Linked DNA regions of Homo sapiens: region 2 is linked to region 1. A link means that fine-mapping ties the variant in region 1 to the expression of a gene that starts in the linked region. Tissue or cell type: whole blood. Region 1 holds a variant in brackets; the other region holds the start of a gene. All regions are shown on one strand. Distances are from middle to middle.

Region 1 (8,260 bases):
TGTAGACCATCCTGGCCAACATGGTTAAACCCCATCTCTACTAAAAATATAAAAATTAGCTGGGTGTGGTGGAGCACGCCTGTAGTCCCAGCTACTCCGGAGGCTGAGGCAGGAGAATCGCTTGAACCTGGGAGGCAGAGGTTGCAGTGAGCCAGTATTGCGCCACTGCACTCCAGCCTGGCGACAGAGCAAGACTCCATCTCAAAAAAAAAAAAAAAAAAAAAAAAATTAGAAAACTGGCTAGGCACAGTAACCCCACACCTGTCAGTGTTGGGAGGCTGAGGCAGGAGAATTGCTTGAGGCCAGGAGTGCAAGGCCAGCCTGGGCTGGGCAATACAACGAGACCCTATTCTCTACAAAAAATAAAAACAAAAATAAATTAGCTGGGCATGGTGCTGCATGCCTGTAGTCCTCCCAGCTACTTTGGAGGCTGAGGCAGTAGGATTGCTTGAACCCAGATGTTGAAAACTGCAGTGAGCTATGATCATGCCACTGCTCTCCAGCCAGGACAAAAGAGTGAGACCCTGTCTCAAATTTAAAAAATTGTTTTAGGGCCGGGCGTGGTGGCTCACACCTATAATTCCACCACTTTGGGAGTCCGAGGCAGGCAGATCACAAGGTCAGGAGTTTGAGACCAGCCTGGCCAACACAGTGAAACCCCATCTCTACTAAAAATACAAAAAAAAATTAGCTGAGCATGGTGGTGGGCGCCTGTAATCACAGCTACTTGGGAGGCTGAGGTAGGAGAATCGCTTGAACCCAGGAGGCGAAGGTTACAATGAGCCAAGATTGTGCCACCGCACTCGAGCCTGGGCGATAGTGCGAGACTTCATCTTTTTTTTTTTTTTTTTTTTTTTTTTTTTGAGACACAGGAGTGAGCCACCGCACCCAGCTGAGAGTTCATCTCAAAAAAAAAAAATTGTTTTAATAAATTAGAAAACAGTCAGGTGCGGTGACTCACATCTGTAATCCAAGCACTTTGGGAGGCCAAGGCAGGTGGATCACCTGAGGTCAGGAGTTTGAGACCAGCCTGGGCAACATGGTGAAACCCCGTCTCTACTAAAAATACAAAAATTGGCTGGGTGTAGTGGCGGGCGCCTGTAATCCCAGCTACTCGGGAGGCTGAGGCAGGAGAATCACTTCAACCCAGGAGGCAGAGGTTGTGGTGAGCAGAGATCGTGCCACTGCACTTCAGCCTGGGCCACAAGAGCAAGACTCCTTCTCAAAAATCAAACAAACAAACAAAAAATAAATAAGAAAACAGACTCCTCATAGCCATGAAGGTTTTTTTTTTTGTTTTTTTGTTTTTTTGTTTTGTTTTGTTTTGTTTTGAGACGGATTCTTGCTCTGTTGTCCAGGCTGGAGTGCAGTGGCGTGATCTTGCCTCACCACAACCTCCGCCTCCCAGGTTCAAGCGATTCTCCTGCCTCAGCTTCCTGAGTAGCTGCGATTACAGTCGCGCACCACCACGTCCTGCTAATTTTTTTTTGCTTTTTTTCAGTAGCGATGGGGTTTCACCATGTTGGTCTGGCTGGTCTCGAATTCCTGACCTTGTGATCCACCCGTCTCGGCCTCCCAAAGTGCTGGGATTATAGGCACCCGGCCTGCCATGAAGACTCCTGGAGATGCAACTTAATGCTATAACTGTCCTAAACTTAATCATTCCCAAGTCATTTCCTAGTACCCATTTAAGTAAGAAAACAGGAAAGTGGATGCCTTTTTAACAACATAACCTTGCCCCTATTCTTGCTTTACCCGAACAAGCAGTTCCACGATGTGCGCATGTCCATCGGCTGCAGCCATGTGCAAGGGGGTCCTGTCTACTTTAGTCCGGGCATCCCTGCTAACACCTGCTCGAAGGAGTACTTCTGCTGTGGAATAATGACCATATTGAGCTGCAAGGTGGAGGGGTGATGTTCCAAGCTGTGGAAAAATAATGCTCATTGAATATCCACTGTGTGCAGAGTCCTAGATCGTTACTGGAGAGATACAAATGAACAAGCTATGGTTCTTGTCCTTCAAGAGAGAATCTGGTTGGGCAGATAAAACTGAAAAAATGCTTAAATTTACAAATTAAAGGCCAGGGGCCAGGTGCACTGGCTCACACCTGTAATCCTAGCACTTTGGGAGGCCAGGGTGGGCAGATCACCTGAGGTCAGGAGTTCAAGACTCTTCTGGCCAACATGGTGAAACCCCGTCTCAACTAAAAAATACAAAAAAAGTTAGCCAGGCGTGGTGGTGGGCACCTGTAATCCCAGCTACTCAGGAGGCTGAGGCAGGGAGAATTGCTTTGAACCTGGGAGGCAGAGGTTGCAGTGAGCTGAGATTGTGCCACTGCACTCCAGCCTGGGCGACAGAGTGAAACACCGTCTCAAAAAAAAAAAAAAATTAACATGCTAATGGACAAATAAATATACCACCAATTGAATAAGTACTAAGTATAATGGCTTTATGTCAGGTGGATTTATCAGTTAAGATTCCCTAAAGGACGTGACTTTACGCAACGTCTAGAAGGTTAAAACAAACAAAAAAAGGATCAGGCTGGATGTGGTGGCTCATGCCTGCAATCCCAGCACTTTGGGAGGTCAAGGCAGGAGGACTGCTTGAGCCCAAGAGATCAAGACCAGCCTGGGCAACACAGAGAGACCTTATCTCATAATAAATTAAAAAATAAATAAATAAAGTAAATTTTAAAAAAGAAAAAGGGTAGAGACTAGAAAGTTACATGTGGAATTTGAGGTACAAATTTGACTGACTGGAAGAAAAGTTTTTTGCCACAGTAAAGCAGGGCAAAATGAATGATGAGATGAAGACGCAATAAAAATTTAGCAATGATGTATCAACAGCAATAAGTAAGTCTGTCATCCCAGTGTAAATCTTGTAAGAGTTATCTATCAGCATCCACTTTGGCCAGAGCTCTATTCCCTTCTTTTTGTTATGCTCTTTATTTTAAGCCTGTTTAGTTTATTCTTTGCTTTTTCATATATTTAGCCTCTCTGCCTGACTGAATTTAATTCACATTGTTCTTTCCAGGTCTATTTATAGAAATGCTAATTTCATGGGTTTCCTTTTCTTTCTTTTTGTGAAATGCTAATAATCTGTTGGCCTCTCAATTAATCAGTCCAGAATAGAGGTCACTCATTCATTGAAATTGTTAAAATTAGGCAATGTGTACAAAATCTGTGACTGCTAAGAAAGCCCACATTATAACTTGGACCTGTTTCTTCTGAAAGTCTTTGGTCTCCAAGATGGTTGAGGCTAAATTACACCTTCCTCTTTAATGTTTTTTGAACAGTGGTAAAGGAAACAAAACAGCTAGATGACTTCTTTTTTTTTTTTTGAAACAGAGTTTCCAAGCTGTAGTGCAATGGTGCAATCTCCGCTCACTGCAACCTCCACCTCCCGAGTTCACGCGATTCTCCTGCCTCAGCCTCTCAAGTAGCTGGGATTACAGGCGTGCGCCACCATGCCCAGCTAATTTTTTGTATTTTTAGTAGAAACGGGTTTCACCATGTTAGCAGGCTGGTCTCGAACTCCTGACCTCAGGTGATCCGCCCGCCTTGGACTCCCAAAGTGCTGGGATTACAGGCGTGAGCCACCACGCTCAGCCTAGACAATTTCTTATTAACCAGGGCATATTAGAGAAAAGGAAACAAGGAATTTATTAGTCTAGGAATGCATTCTTATTATATTGATTTTGTTTAATTTCTAGCTAATTACAGAAGCCTATAACCCAAGTACACTCCAGAGACAGTTAAACCTTTAGAAAATACTCTAAAAAACATTATAGAAAATCACAAGTATATAATACCTTACAATTATCACCTATATATCCACAGGAGACTCTCAATTTGGAAAACTAAAAGAAAAAGAAAACCACATATTCAGATGAGACAAAGAAAATAAAACTCTTGTAAGGGATATGAGGTAGAAAGGGAGTGAAGAAAAACCAATAGTCTGTTAGCCTTTAAGAAAAATGTTGGTAAAAGCATACATTGGAAATAATTAAGAGACCTCTCCTCTAAGCTTACCCAGTCTGTGGTGAATGGGGCGCCATTTGCCATCAACGTTCTCACTTCATCATCTTGGCCTTTTCTTGCTGCTTCTAGCAACCTCTTTCCCAAGTCCACCAAAGACATCTTTATGCATAGGAACAAAAGTTTTCAGGTAGCTATAACTCGAACATAAGGAAAGCCGCCAATACATTTTTTAGAAGACTTCTTATATTTGAATGTATATAAGATACATCTCAAGTTGACTGTCTGGTAGGTCACTTC[C/T]TTTCTACCTCGTCTAACACAAACAATAAAATATTTGGGAATGTTTCAAGCCCTAATACATAGTTCTATCACTTTCAATCCCCAGAAAAATACTCTGGAAATATCTGCAACACACTACGACCTTTCTAGTTTAAGGAATCGATAAAACACCATTTCATTCCCCTGAAATGAAGAAGGGTACAATATTATTTTAAGGAACATAATATAAAATAATAAAGTATGTACTTTGATCTCCAGGAAGGGAGCAAGGTGGATGCCCATCTGTGAAACTACTGCTTGATGGAAATTATGAGAGCCCTTATTAGCAACTAACTGCTCTCTCTGGAGGTTTGTAGGTCTTTGGATAGCACAATGAAACAGGACACATCAAGGTTTCCAAATAAAACTGTAACTCTCTTTTTTTTTGAGACTAAGTCTCGCTGTATTGCTCAGGCTGGAGAGCAGTGGTGTGATCTTGACTCAGTGCAACCTCTGCCTCCCGGGTTCAAGCAATTCTCCTGCCTAAGCCTCCTGAGTAGCTGGGATTACAGGCACCCGCCACCATGCCTGGCTAATTTTTGTATTTTTAGTAGAGATGGGGTTTCACCATGTTGGCCAGGCTGGTCTTGAACTCCTGACCTCAAGTGATCCACCCACCTCAGCCTCCCAAAGTGTTGGGATTACAGGCGTGAGCCACTGCGCCCGGCCCAAACTACATCTTAATCTAGTTTTTATCTTCTGACTATCGTGTAATCATATAATCATGCTTAAAATTTAAGGAGACAAAGAGGGGTGCAGTGGCTTGGGACTGTAATCCCAGCACTTTGGGAGGTCAAAGTAGGAGGATTACTTGAGCTCACGAGTTTGAGACCAGCCTAGGCAAAATGGCGAAACCGTCTCACAAAAAATACAAAAATTGGCTGGGCGCGGTGGCTCACGCCTGTAATCCCAGCACTTTGGGAGGCCAAGGCAGGCAGATCACCTGAGGTCAGGAGTTTGAGACCAGCCTGGCCGACATAGTGAAACCCTGTCTCTACTAAAAATACAAAAATTAGCCGGGCGTGGTGGCACATGCCTGTAGACCCAGCTACTTGGGAGGCTGAGGCAGGACAATTGCTTGAACCTGGGAGGTGGATGTTGCAATGAGCTGAGATCGCACCACTGCACTCCAGTCTGGGCGACAGAGCGAGACACTATCTCGAAAAAATAAAAAATATATATACAAAAAAATACAAAAATTAGCTGGGCATGGTGGTACGTGCCTATAGTCTCAGCTACTCAGGAGGCTAAAGTGGGAGGAAAACTTGAGCTCAGGAGGTGGAGGTTGCAGTGAGCTGAGATTGCACCACTGCACTCTAGCCTGGGCAACAGAGCCAGATCTTGACTCAAAAAAAAAAAAAAATTAAGAACAAGCTTTCACTGATTAAACACTGATCTCGTTAGGCCAGTAGCTCAACAAATATGGTTTATGGACCCCTGGTGGTCCCTGATGCCTTTTTAGGGAACTATGAGGTCAAAACTATTTTTGTTATAATACAAAAACATTATTTGCCTTTTTTCTTTTTCCATGTTTACATTAGCACTAACGGTGCAAATCCAACAGTGGGTATAACTGCTGGTGCCTTAGCATGAATCAAACTGTGCTATTGGTTATTGTATTCTTCACTGCCATGTAATCTCAAGGGAAAATTGCCAGTTCTACTTAGGAGTGTCCTGGATGACACAGCAAAAATTATTAATTGTATTAAATCTCAACACCTGAATATATGTGTTTATAATTTATGTGTGACAAAATGGGAAGTATACATAAAGCACTTTTTTTTTTTTGAGACAGGGTTTCACTCTGTCACCCAGGCTGGAGTGCAGTGGGCACAATCACAGCTCACTGCAGTCCTGACCTCCTGGGCTCATGGGATCCTCCCATCTCAGCTTCCCGAGTAGCTGGGACTACAAGCACACACCACCATGCCCAGCTAATTTTTGTATTTTTTGTAGAGATGGGGATTCACAATATTGTTCAGGCTGTTCTCAAACTCCTGGGCTCAAGCAATCGACCCATCTTGGCCCCACCAGTGTTGGGATTACAGGCGTGAGCCACCACACCCAGCCTCTTCTCTACCTTTTTGCCCAAATGACAATTATATTGTACCCACTATTCTGCATGATCTGTCCATAGCAATAGAATCCCAAAGTGTTGGGATTACAGGCATGAGCCACTGTGCCTATCCGACATAAAATACTTCTGCTGCTTACTGAAACATGATGGTTTTCTTGAGAAAAAGCACTACACGATTAAGTTACAAGCTAAAATAACTGCTTTTGGCCAGGCGCAGTGGCTCACGCCTATAATCCCAGTACTTTGGGAGGCCCAGGCGGGTAGATCACGAGGTCAGGAGATCAAGACCATCCTGGCTAACACGGTGAAACTCCATCTCTACTAAAAATACAAAATATATATATATATATTAGCCAGGTGTGGTGGCAGATGCCTGTAGTCCCAGCTACTCAGGAGGCTGAGGCAGGAGAATGGTGTGAACCCTGGAGGCGGAGCTTGCAGTGAGCCGAGATTGTGCCACCGCACTCCAGCCTGGGCAACAGAGCGAGACTCCGTCTCAAAAAAAAATAAAATAAATAACTGCTTTTATCATGGAACATCATTTTATTATTTTATTTTTGAGACAGAGTTTTGCTCTCATCACCCAGGCTGGAGTGCAATGGCATGATTTCAGATCACTGCAACCTCTGCTTCCCAGGTACAAGCGATTCTCCTGCCTCAGCCTCCCAAGTATCTGGAATTACAGGCACCCATCACCATGCCCAGCTAATTTTTTTATTTTTAGTAGAGAGGGGTTTTGCCATGCTGGTCAGGCTGGTCTCGAACTCCTGACCTCAGATGATCTGCCTGCCTCGGCCTCCCAAAGTGCTGGGATTACAGGTGTGAGCCACCGCGCCTGGCCATTTTATTTTATTATTTTTGAGACGGGTTCTTGCTCTGTCACCCAGGCTGAAGTGCAGTGCCGTGATCACAGCTCACTGCAGATTTGACCACTTAGGCTCAAGCAATTCCATCTCAGCCTTCCAAGTAGCTGAGACTACAGGCAAGTGGCACCATGCCCAGCTAATTTTTTTTTAAATTTTTTGTAGAGACAGAGTCTGCAACATCACTTTTATATGAAGGAATGATGAATAGACCAAGGGCTCAGGTATATGGCAGGTATGTTTTTTAAAAATGAACAGCTGGCTGGGCGCGGTGGCTCACACCTGTAATCCCAACACTTTGGGAGGCAGAGGCGGGCGGATCACAAGGTCAGGAGATCGAGACCATCCTGGCTAACCTGGTGAAATCCCATCTCTACTAAAGATACAAAAAATTAGCTGGGCATGGTGGCGGGTACCTGTAATCCCAGCTACTCGGGAGGCTGAGGCAGGAGAATGGCATGAACCTGGGAGGCGGAGCTTGCAGTGAGCCGAGACTGCGCCACTGCACTCCAGCCTGGGCGACAGAGTGAGACTCCGTCTCAAAAAAAAAAAAAAAAAAAACAGCTAGGGCCGGGCGCGGTGGCTCATGACTGTAATCCCAGCACTTTGGGAGGTCAAGGCGGGCTGATCATCTGACGTCAGGAGTTTGAGACCAGCCTGACCAACATGGAGAAATCCCATCTCTACTAAAAATACAAAAAAAATTAGCCGGGCATGGTGGCGCATGCCTGTAATCCCAGCTACTCAGGAAGGCTGAGGCAGGAGAATCACTTGAACCGGGAGGGAGGTTGCGGTGAGCCGAGATCCCGCCATTGCACTCCAGCCTGAGCAACAAGAGTGAAACTCCGTCTCAAAAAACAAAACAAACAAACAAAAAAAAACAGCTGGGCACAGTGGCTCACGCCTGCAATTGCAGCATTTAGGGAGGCAGAAGTGGGAGGGCAGTTTCAGCCCAGGAGTAAGAGACTACCCGACTACCCCGGGCAACACAGTAAGGCCCCATTTCCACATTAAAAAAATATATA
Region 2 (8,000 bases), 100 kb after region 1:
AACTACAGGTGCAGCTAATTTTTAAAAATATTTTGTGGAGATAGAGTCTCACTATGTTGCCTAGGCTGGTCTTGGACTCCTGGGCTCAAGTGATCCTCTTGTTTCAGCCTCCCAAAGTGCTGGGATTACAGGTATAAGCCACCATGCCTGGCCTACTAGTTGTTTTTATTTATGTTTTTTTATCTTATGTTTTTTATTTTTTAAGAAAGAAATAGGGCTAAGAGAGGGCTCTGCCCTTACAGCCTCACAGCTCTATTCACTGATTTGGAAAAATCCTGGTACCCGAGGATTAAATAATCCCCAAAAGGTCTGAGGAGGCTTTCTGCCCCCAAACGCTCATGAGAGGAGAATATGTCAGTTGATGAGCTCAGGAGTCAGAGGCTAGATGAGTGAAAAGGCTTCAGCTATGACGCTACCTGACACCTCCTGCCCCTACCACATAACTGAGAACTCCCTCTCCAAGGCAGGGATGGGTTTGCGGGAAAAATGGGCACGTAGGTCACCGGCTCTAAGATATGGTGGAGGAAGGCATCTTATGTGCATGGCGGCTGTGCACACTCCTAAACCCCCTGCTCACCTGGACATCTTGTTCTGCCAGATTATAGTCAATGATTCCAGAGTAGCTGTCACGGCCCCCCTAGGAGGAGAAACTGTTCTTAGAGGGCTCTTTGAAGGGCACCTTTTTATCTTCAGACCAACAAGCGAAGGCTGGTCTCCCCTAAAGCCCTCTCTTGTCCATTACAGGACAGCAATGCTCCCTGCTCCAGCGTGTCTCCTTGCCTGGTGAACGTGACTCCCTTCCTTGCAGGTCAGTCCTCCTCACCTTGGCCAGGGCCAACAGCAGGTCCTGCAAGATGCCACTGGTCTCAGATGTGATGTCATCCACAGCCTCCACCTGGAAATCTGGGGTGGGGTGAGGAGCTCTCTGAATCCTCCTGAGTTTTCCTAGTGTAGATATCCCCAGGACCTGCCAAATGCCTGACCCGCTATACCCTGCCAGCCCTGCTAGCCCCTGCTTGGAGTAGCTTGATGGCTGCTAATTCCCAGGATGTAAGGCACAAGTACCATCACGGCCACTCTAAAAACATCTCTAAGTTGTGAGGTGTGCAGTGGCTTCATCACCAAGCACCAACCTGCTGGGCAGGAGGCAACCATTATTAGAGTTGGGGCCAGGCAGTGAAGAAGAGCTAGGGAAACCCGTATTATAACACAAGATGGTTAGGACCTGGCACCCTCATTGGAGGTAAGGAAAAATGATATGAGAGGTGGGATATGAGGAAGGAAAAGAGCAGGAAAGGGAGAAAAAGAAAGAGAAAAGGGAAACAGATGCAAGAAGGAAGGAAGGTAGGAGAGGGATTAAGAACATAGGCCACGGCCAGGGCGGTGGCTCATGCTTGTAATCCCAGCACTTTCAGAGGCTGAGGCAGGAGATGGCTTGAGCCCAGAAGTTCGAGACCAGCCTGGACAACACAGCGAAACCCCATCTCTACAAAAAATACAAAATTTAGCTGGGCATGGTGGTGGCACACCTGTAGTCCCAGCTACTTAGGAGGCTGAGGTGGGAGGACTGATTGAGCCCAGAAGGGTCAAGGCTGCAGTGAGCCATGATGACATCACTGCACAGCCTAGGCTACAGGGCAAGACCTTGTCTCAAAAGAAGAACATAGGCCAAGATTAGACATCAAAGGAAAATTGGGGAAAGCAAGAAAAAGAGGTAGGGGTGGGGGGAAGGGGTGGTAAGATGAGGATGGGAAAAAGCCACAAATTAGTGGGTGAGACACTTGTAGCCAAGCAAGGCCAGCCATCAGGGACATGAAAGGTGACACCCATGACTCAGAGGGCAGATTCCCACCTTTTCCTCAGGCTGCAGCATGGCTGGGTTCAGCTTGGAATGTGGTGTGATGGCAGGGATGGCAAGGGGCTGGGAAGGTGACATGAGTACCTTTGGGACTGTCACTTTGGAATCTGCCTTGGAGCTCCAGATTAAGATGGTTAATCATTGCTTCTCTCTCTTTATTTGTGTGTGTGTGTGTGTGTGTGTGTGTGTGAGAGAGAGAGAGAGAGAGAGAGACATGCTCTCACTCCTGTCACCCAGGCTGGTGTGCAGTGGCAGTGGCACGATCTCAGCTCACTGCAGCCTCAACTTCCCAAGCTGGGGTGATCCTCCCACCTCAAACTCCTGAGTAGCTGGGACCACAGGCGCACACCACCATGACCAGCTGGTTTTTTTGAATTTTTAGCACAGATGAGGTTTTCCTTTATTGCCTGTGACTGGTCTTGAACTCCTGGGCTCAAGTGACCTGCCCACCTCAGCCTCCCAAAGTGTTGGGGTGACAGGCATGAGTCACCGTACCTGGCCTGCTTCTCTTTTTTTAATGATCACATCTGGGTCTCTCCCCTGAGAGACTGAGGCACTGGTGGGGGCAAGAGGAAAGACCCCAAGGGAATAGAACTTAGGCAGCCAGGTTGCCAGATAGCTCACCTATGGGGAGTACAGGAGAGGAGTGGCCTGTCCTACAGCCCCTTCTCCAGCATCTGGGACCCCTCCCTCTATATTCTTACTGTGTTTGTAGACTGCCAGGCACTCCTGCAGCTGGGGTGGGGTTCGAGTGGCAAGAATTTCAATGGCCACGTCCACAGCAGAATCTGAGGCCTACAAGAAATTGGGAGTCTACTCTCAGACTGGCCGTGTCATTAGGATGGCAGACAGAGGGGCAGACGCTGGCTGCTTCTCCTTCTAAGAAACAATATGGGACGACGAGAGGGGGACTCTCGTCTTGCAAAAGCAAGGCTGACAGCCTTCTCCCTTCCCCAGACACCCCAGCAAGTCTCCCCTCCTGCTACCTTCAGAGCTGTCCTCAATTCCTGGGCGTCAAACTGGGCTGTGGGCTGCAGCAGAGCCATCACAATCCTCTCCAGGTTGCCGGAAAGTGCTGCCTGTAGAGACTTCATCAGGTCCTACAATAAATGGTCCTCACAGCAGAGGGACGGGGGTGAGGGGAAGGGCCCCAGAAGTGTGGGGAGGTTTGGGAAGATTTGGCTGGTTTTCATCTCAGGCCCTGTTTAGCCAGGAAGCAGGGGCTGGCCTCAGCGGCTGTTGCTGTCTCTCGAGTCCTCCAGGGGGTTTCTCACCCCAGTCCACTGCTGTGGGAGGTCAGCATGGCCTCACCTGTTGGGTGCGCTCCTGGAAGTTTCGTGAGATGAGCTGCCTTTGCTCTCTGCTCCGGTTGGTCAGCACGTCCACAATGGCACTGCGGTCCACGCCTGAACCGAGATGAGGGCTGTGCTGTGAGCAGGGTCTTTACATAGTGGGATGTTCCTACTCCTTGGAGGAGGGAAGGCGCTCCAGGAGAGGGCTGGGAAGGAAAGGAGCAGGGGCTATATCACCCCCACTTCCATTTTATCTCAAAAGAAGTTGCAAATAAAATGTCAAAACAGCATGCAAATCTGACCCAGACCAAGGCAAAGGTGGCCTGGTGTGGTGGTTAAAAAAAAATACGACTTGGGGGGATCGGCTGACCTAGATGAGAATACCACCTCCGTCATGAGCTGAGTGACCTTGGGCAAGCCTCTTAATCTCCCTGAGCCCCAGTTTCCTCATCTGGAAAATGGAAATAATAAGCCTTGCCTCACAGGGGTGTTGTGAGAATGGGTTTGACACACCTACTGTGGCGCCTGACATACAAGAATGAAGGCATTCCACAAACATTTCTCCAACATCACTAGTTCCTCCTTCCTGGCTCCTCCTTGGTCTACAGATTGGCTCTAAAAGGCAGTCTCAAGTGCCGGGGGAAAGGGGCTCACCTTGGCCAGTAATGGCCCTCAGTAGCCTCTGCGCATCCTTGTCCACGCTGAAGTTCAAGAAGGTCCTGAGGGTGCCCAGGGTCCCCCACGCTGCAGTCTGTGGGAGCACAGGGTAGTTGGCAAGGGCCAGGGCCAGGCTGCCTACACCTCCTCAGCATAACCTCAGGGCCTGTCCTCCACTTTCCTGCCTCCCATCCTCTCACAGCCCGAGCTGAGATACTAAAAGTGATCTCTAAAATCCCAACAGCCCCTACCTTGCTGGCCAGGCCCAGGTGGCTGAGGATCTCCTGGGTGAGGGACGGTGCCATCTTCCCGCCAGTCACAGACATGGTGCTACTGGTTGCCCTGGGGAAGGAAACAGGAGCCCACAGAGCTGAATTTCCTGGCCCTTCAGGGACTCCTTATGACCCCCCCGAGACCCTGGACCCTGGGTTCCAGTCACCTGTTCCTTTCCTTGCTGCAGAAAAAAAGATCAACCTGCTTAGGCTTGGAGCCAGAAATGGAGCTGAAATGGTGAGGTAAGAGGGGAGCCCCCACCTTCCCCACCTCTCCCCACTCCTTTAGGAAGTGGGGATTGATGCGGAATGCTCCTGGACCAGGCGCCAACCCTCCCTGATGCCAGGGTCAGCACCAAAGCTCCTCAGGCCTTGGTCCGCGGTAGATGCCTCCCTTCTGAGGTCTATGGCCCTCCTTCCTGGGCCTGGCTGGGGTCTCCTGGGCAGTGCAGGGGAGCTGAGGTGAGGTGGCAGGATTAACCACGCAGAGTGGAAGACAACTCGAAATAGCATCTTCCCCCACCGGCAGCCCCAGCTGACAAGCAACCCTCAATTCCTGCCTGTACAGCTGCCTACCTGCTCAGCAGCACAGGAGCACAGGCCGGAATCTCTAGGTCAGCAGGTGCAATCTCTTAGCTGATGTGAGCAAGAGTTCTTGCAAGTACGTGGATGCCTGGACAGAAAGGAGGCACTCTCATGTTGGAAAAGGAAAACTCATTTTTCCCTCCCCCAAGCAATCAACAAGCCCTCCTGGCATGGGGCCGTGGGCCCAGTACTTACTCAGAGGTGCCAGAGGTGAGGTGGGTGTCGTTGTTGTGGCCTGGTAGCTTGCCTGTGTGAGCACTGCCTCCGGTGTGGCCTGGTAGAGGAAAGTGGGGGTGTGTGCAGCCTAGGCTGAACAGCCAGTCAGATGACCTCTCTTAGGGACGAACCCAGCAGTTGTCTGACTCTGGCCCCTCCCAGACGTGGGAGAGGACCGGGCTGTACAGAGTCCCACATGCAGACACCTTCCTGCCCAGCATCTCTTCTCCCAGGAACTGGGCCTCAATCCATGTGAGTGAACTCCACTCAGCCTCTCAGCGGCTCAGCCTCAAACACAGGAGGCTTTTATGCACTGCCTTCCCTGTGGGTCCAGGTGGGACCACAGAGACCTAGTCTCAAAGTCCAGCTTCTGACCTGGCTCTGCCCCAGCTTCTGACCTGGCTCTGCCTCTGGCTCCAGCTCCCTGGGGGGCAGGTCAGACAGGCTGCAGGCTGATTTCAAGGCTGATAGGGAAAAACCTGTTGGGGCACATACCAGCAGGGCACCCCAGCCTGCACCCCAGAGGGGGTCCCAGCCCAGAAACTCCCTTGACTGCTGCCTTACTAGAGCCAGCTGACCTAGGTGGAGAGTGCCCAGGGATTGTGTATATCTGTGGAGAAGGAAGGGCACAAGTATTTGGGAGTGGAAGTTGATGAACAGAGTCAAGAGAGAAAAATGCAAAGGGTGTTACCTTCAGAGGGAAGCTCTATGCTCCCAAAAGGCAACAGGGAGATGGGGGAGGCTCCCTTGCCTGGTTTCTTAGATTGCTTCTGTTGCCTTTTGGCAGCCTGGGCCCTGTGGCTGTTTTAGCTGCAGGTGATGCAACCCCAGCAGCTGGACTTGAGGCTGTCTCTGCACAGAGCAGCAGGTGAACAGCCCTGTGGAGCCCCCGCCCCGCCATGCAGCAACTGCTCCAGCCTCACAGCTGGCTCCCTCAGGTCTAAACACAGCCTCTTTCCTGCCTCCCTGGAGAGCCTGGGTAGGGGCGGGGCACAGAAGCTACAGCCCTGCCTCCACTCACTCCTCTGCCTCTCTCCCAACTCAGGAAGGCCTTCACTGGCATTCCTACATCCCTGGAGGAGGGACCTGCAGTGGCTCCACCACACTGAGTAGACCATGCCGGAGGACACGCCATGAAAGGATATTTCTGTGGCGGTAATCACTGCTCCTCACTTTTCTCTCCTGTTAAAAGGAAAACATGCACCTGTGTCAGAACTGGAGAATGAGGGTTCAATATCCAGCTCTGCCACCTATGTTCTGTAAGCTTCGCTAGTCCTTTCAGCTCTCTAAATGGGAGGATTGAGAGAGACGGAGGCTGTGGGACATGCTGGGGCCTCCGAGGACAGGTTTCCTGGGATGATTAAATGAAGTAATGTGTCCACTAAAGAACTTATCCATGTAACCAAACACCACCTTGTCCCCAAAAACTATTGAACTCATAAAAATAAATAAATAAATAAATAAATAAATAAGGTAATGTGGCCAGGCACGGTGGCTCATGCCTGTAATCCCAGCACTTTGTGAGGCCGAGGCGGGTGGATCATGAGGCAGGAGATCGAGACCAGCCTTGGCTTACACAGTGAAACCCCGTCTCTACTAAAAATACAAAAAATTAGCCGGGCATGGCGGCGCATGCCTGTAATCCCAGCTACTCGGGAGGCTGAGGCAGGAGAATCACTTGAACCTGGGAGGCAGAGGTTGCAGTGAGCTGAGATGGCGCCACTGCACTCCACAGCCTGGGCGACAGAGTGAGACTCCGTCTCAAAAAAAAAAAAAAAAAAAAAAAGTAATCTGTGTAATTGCATGTGGCAGAGAAAAGTGCCCTGTAAAGTAGGGGTATTAGATTAAATAAATAAATATACAGGACATGCAGCTTAATCAGAATTTCACGTAAATGAGGAATCATTTGTTGGTACAAGTATGACCCAAATATTTCATTAAATATACTAACATTTTTTTTTTTGAGGCGGAGTCTCTCTCTGTTGCCCAGGCTGGAGTGCAGTGGCATTATGTTGGCTCACTGCAAGCTCCACCTCCCGGGTTCAAGCGATTCTCCTGCCTCCGCCTCCCGAGTAGCTGGGATTATAGGCGCCTGCCATCATGCCTGGCTAATTTTTTGTATTCTTAGTAGAGATAGGGTTTCACCATGTTGGCCAGGCTGGTCTCGAACTCCTGACCTCGTGATCCACCTGCCTTGGACTCCCAAAGTGCTGGGATTACAGGCGTGAGCCACCGCCTGTAATTATTATTTTTTGTTTATCTGAAATTATAGTTTAACAGTGTGTCCTGTATTTCACCTGACAACCCCAAAATGGAACTCAGTCTCAGCGTGGTGGCTAAAAGCAAAGCTTCTGGAGCCAGACTTCTCAGAGTCGGGATTCTGGTCTTCTGTGTGACCTTGGGCAACTATTCTGTGCTCAGTTTCCTCATCATCAACAGACAAGTAATAGTGTTTATGTTATAGGTTGTTGTGAGAATTAAATAACTACAGTGCATATAAAGCACTTAGAAGAGTTCTGGGCACAGCGCTGTTAAGTAGAAATGTCACAATGTTATCAAATATATAACGATAAGTATTGTTATATGGTAACTGTTACTGTTGTTATTACTTACCTCCTTAAGAATTCCGATCTTGGCTCGCTTCTGAAACTTTTCTGGCCAATCCCCAAAATGGCCACAAGAGGGCGTCAGCAGCCACTGAGAGTCTCGAGCCCCCTAGTGGCCCCTTGAGGTCTCTGGCTCCAGCCCCACATATTAAGGGGCTGTCTCAGCCCACTTGGGAAGTGCAGCCTCCTGAGGACGCCAGGTTCCTGGGTGGAATTGGTATGCAGGTAGCATCAGGGGAAGAGCCTCAGGTAGATACCTACTCAGGGGAGCCCCCGAGGCTGACCTCAGACACATGCAGGAGACTGGGTGACCGCAGTTAGGCTGGGTAAACACGGTACTGCAGCTCCGCAGCCGGGGTCCCCCTGGCCCTCGGCTTTCTGTACCCTTCAGAGTTTCTTCTGGCTACCTGCCCAGCAGATTTAGGGAGAACCGAAGGAAGCGTGAGGCCTCCTGTTTCCTCACGCCGAATCTCTCCAAGGGGCTCCTGGCCGGCATGCCAGGCTGAACTCTGAA

Alleles and levels. Positions count from the first base shown, and alleles are read on the strand shown. Sizes are in standard deviations (SD) of each study's normalised expression.
With allele C in place of T in region 1, the expression in whole blood of the gene that starts at base 4,947 in region 2 is lower (large effect, 1.0 SD a copy in Lepik 2017).

What was found. PIP is the estimated chance that this variant, and not a neighbour inherited with it, causes the effect.
Region 2: ANXA9 starts here. The variant in region 1 is fine-mapped to the expression of ANXA9 in whole blood (TOPMed, PIP above 0.99).

The regions. Positions count from the first base shown.
Region 1 is chr1:151,084,069-151,092,328 of GRCh38, reverse strand. It overlaps GABPB2 (GA binding protein transcription factor subunit beta 2), which reads right to left. Exons shown (of 9, transcript NM_144618.3): 2 at 4,032-4,139; 3 at 1,756-1,923. The coding sequence starts at 4,139. Among named protein-coding and RNA genes, the nearest start is that of GABPB2, 17 kb to the right of the region's middle. The variant C/T (reference allele first, on the strand shown) is at 4,278.
Region 2 is chr1:150,979,239-150,987,238 of GRCh38, reverse strand. It overlaps ANXA9 (annexin A9), which reads right to left and starts at 4,947. Exons shown (of 14, transcript NM_003568.3): 1 at 4,860-4,947; 2 at 4,656-4,752; 3 at 4,059-4,149; 4 at 3,805-3,901; 5 at 3,170-3,264; 6 at 2,845-2,958; 7 at 2,563-2,653; 8 at 824-903; 9 at 578-637. The coding sequence starts at 4,133. It overlaps LOC105371438 (a long non-coding RNA gene), which reads left to right and starts at 5,734. Exons shown (of 3, transcript XR_922135.3): 1 at 5,734-5,818; 2 at 5,926-6,035; 3 at 7,153-7,281. RefSeq lists an enhancer at 3,562-4,423.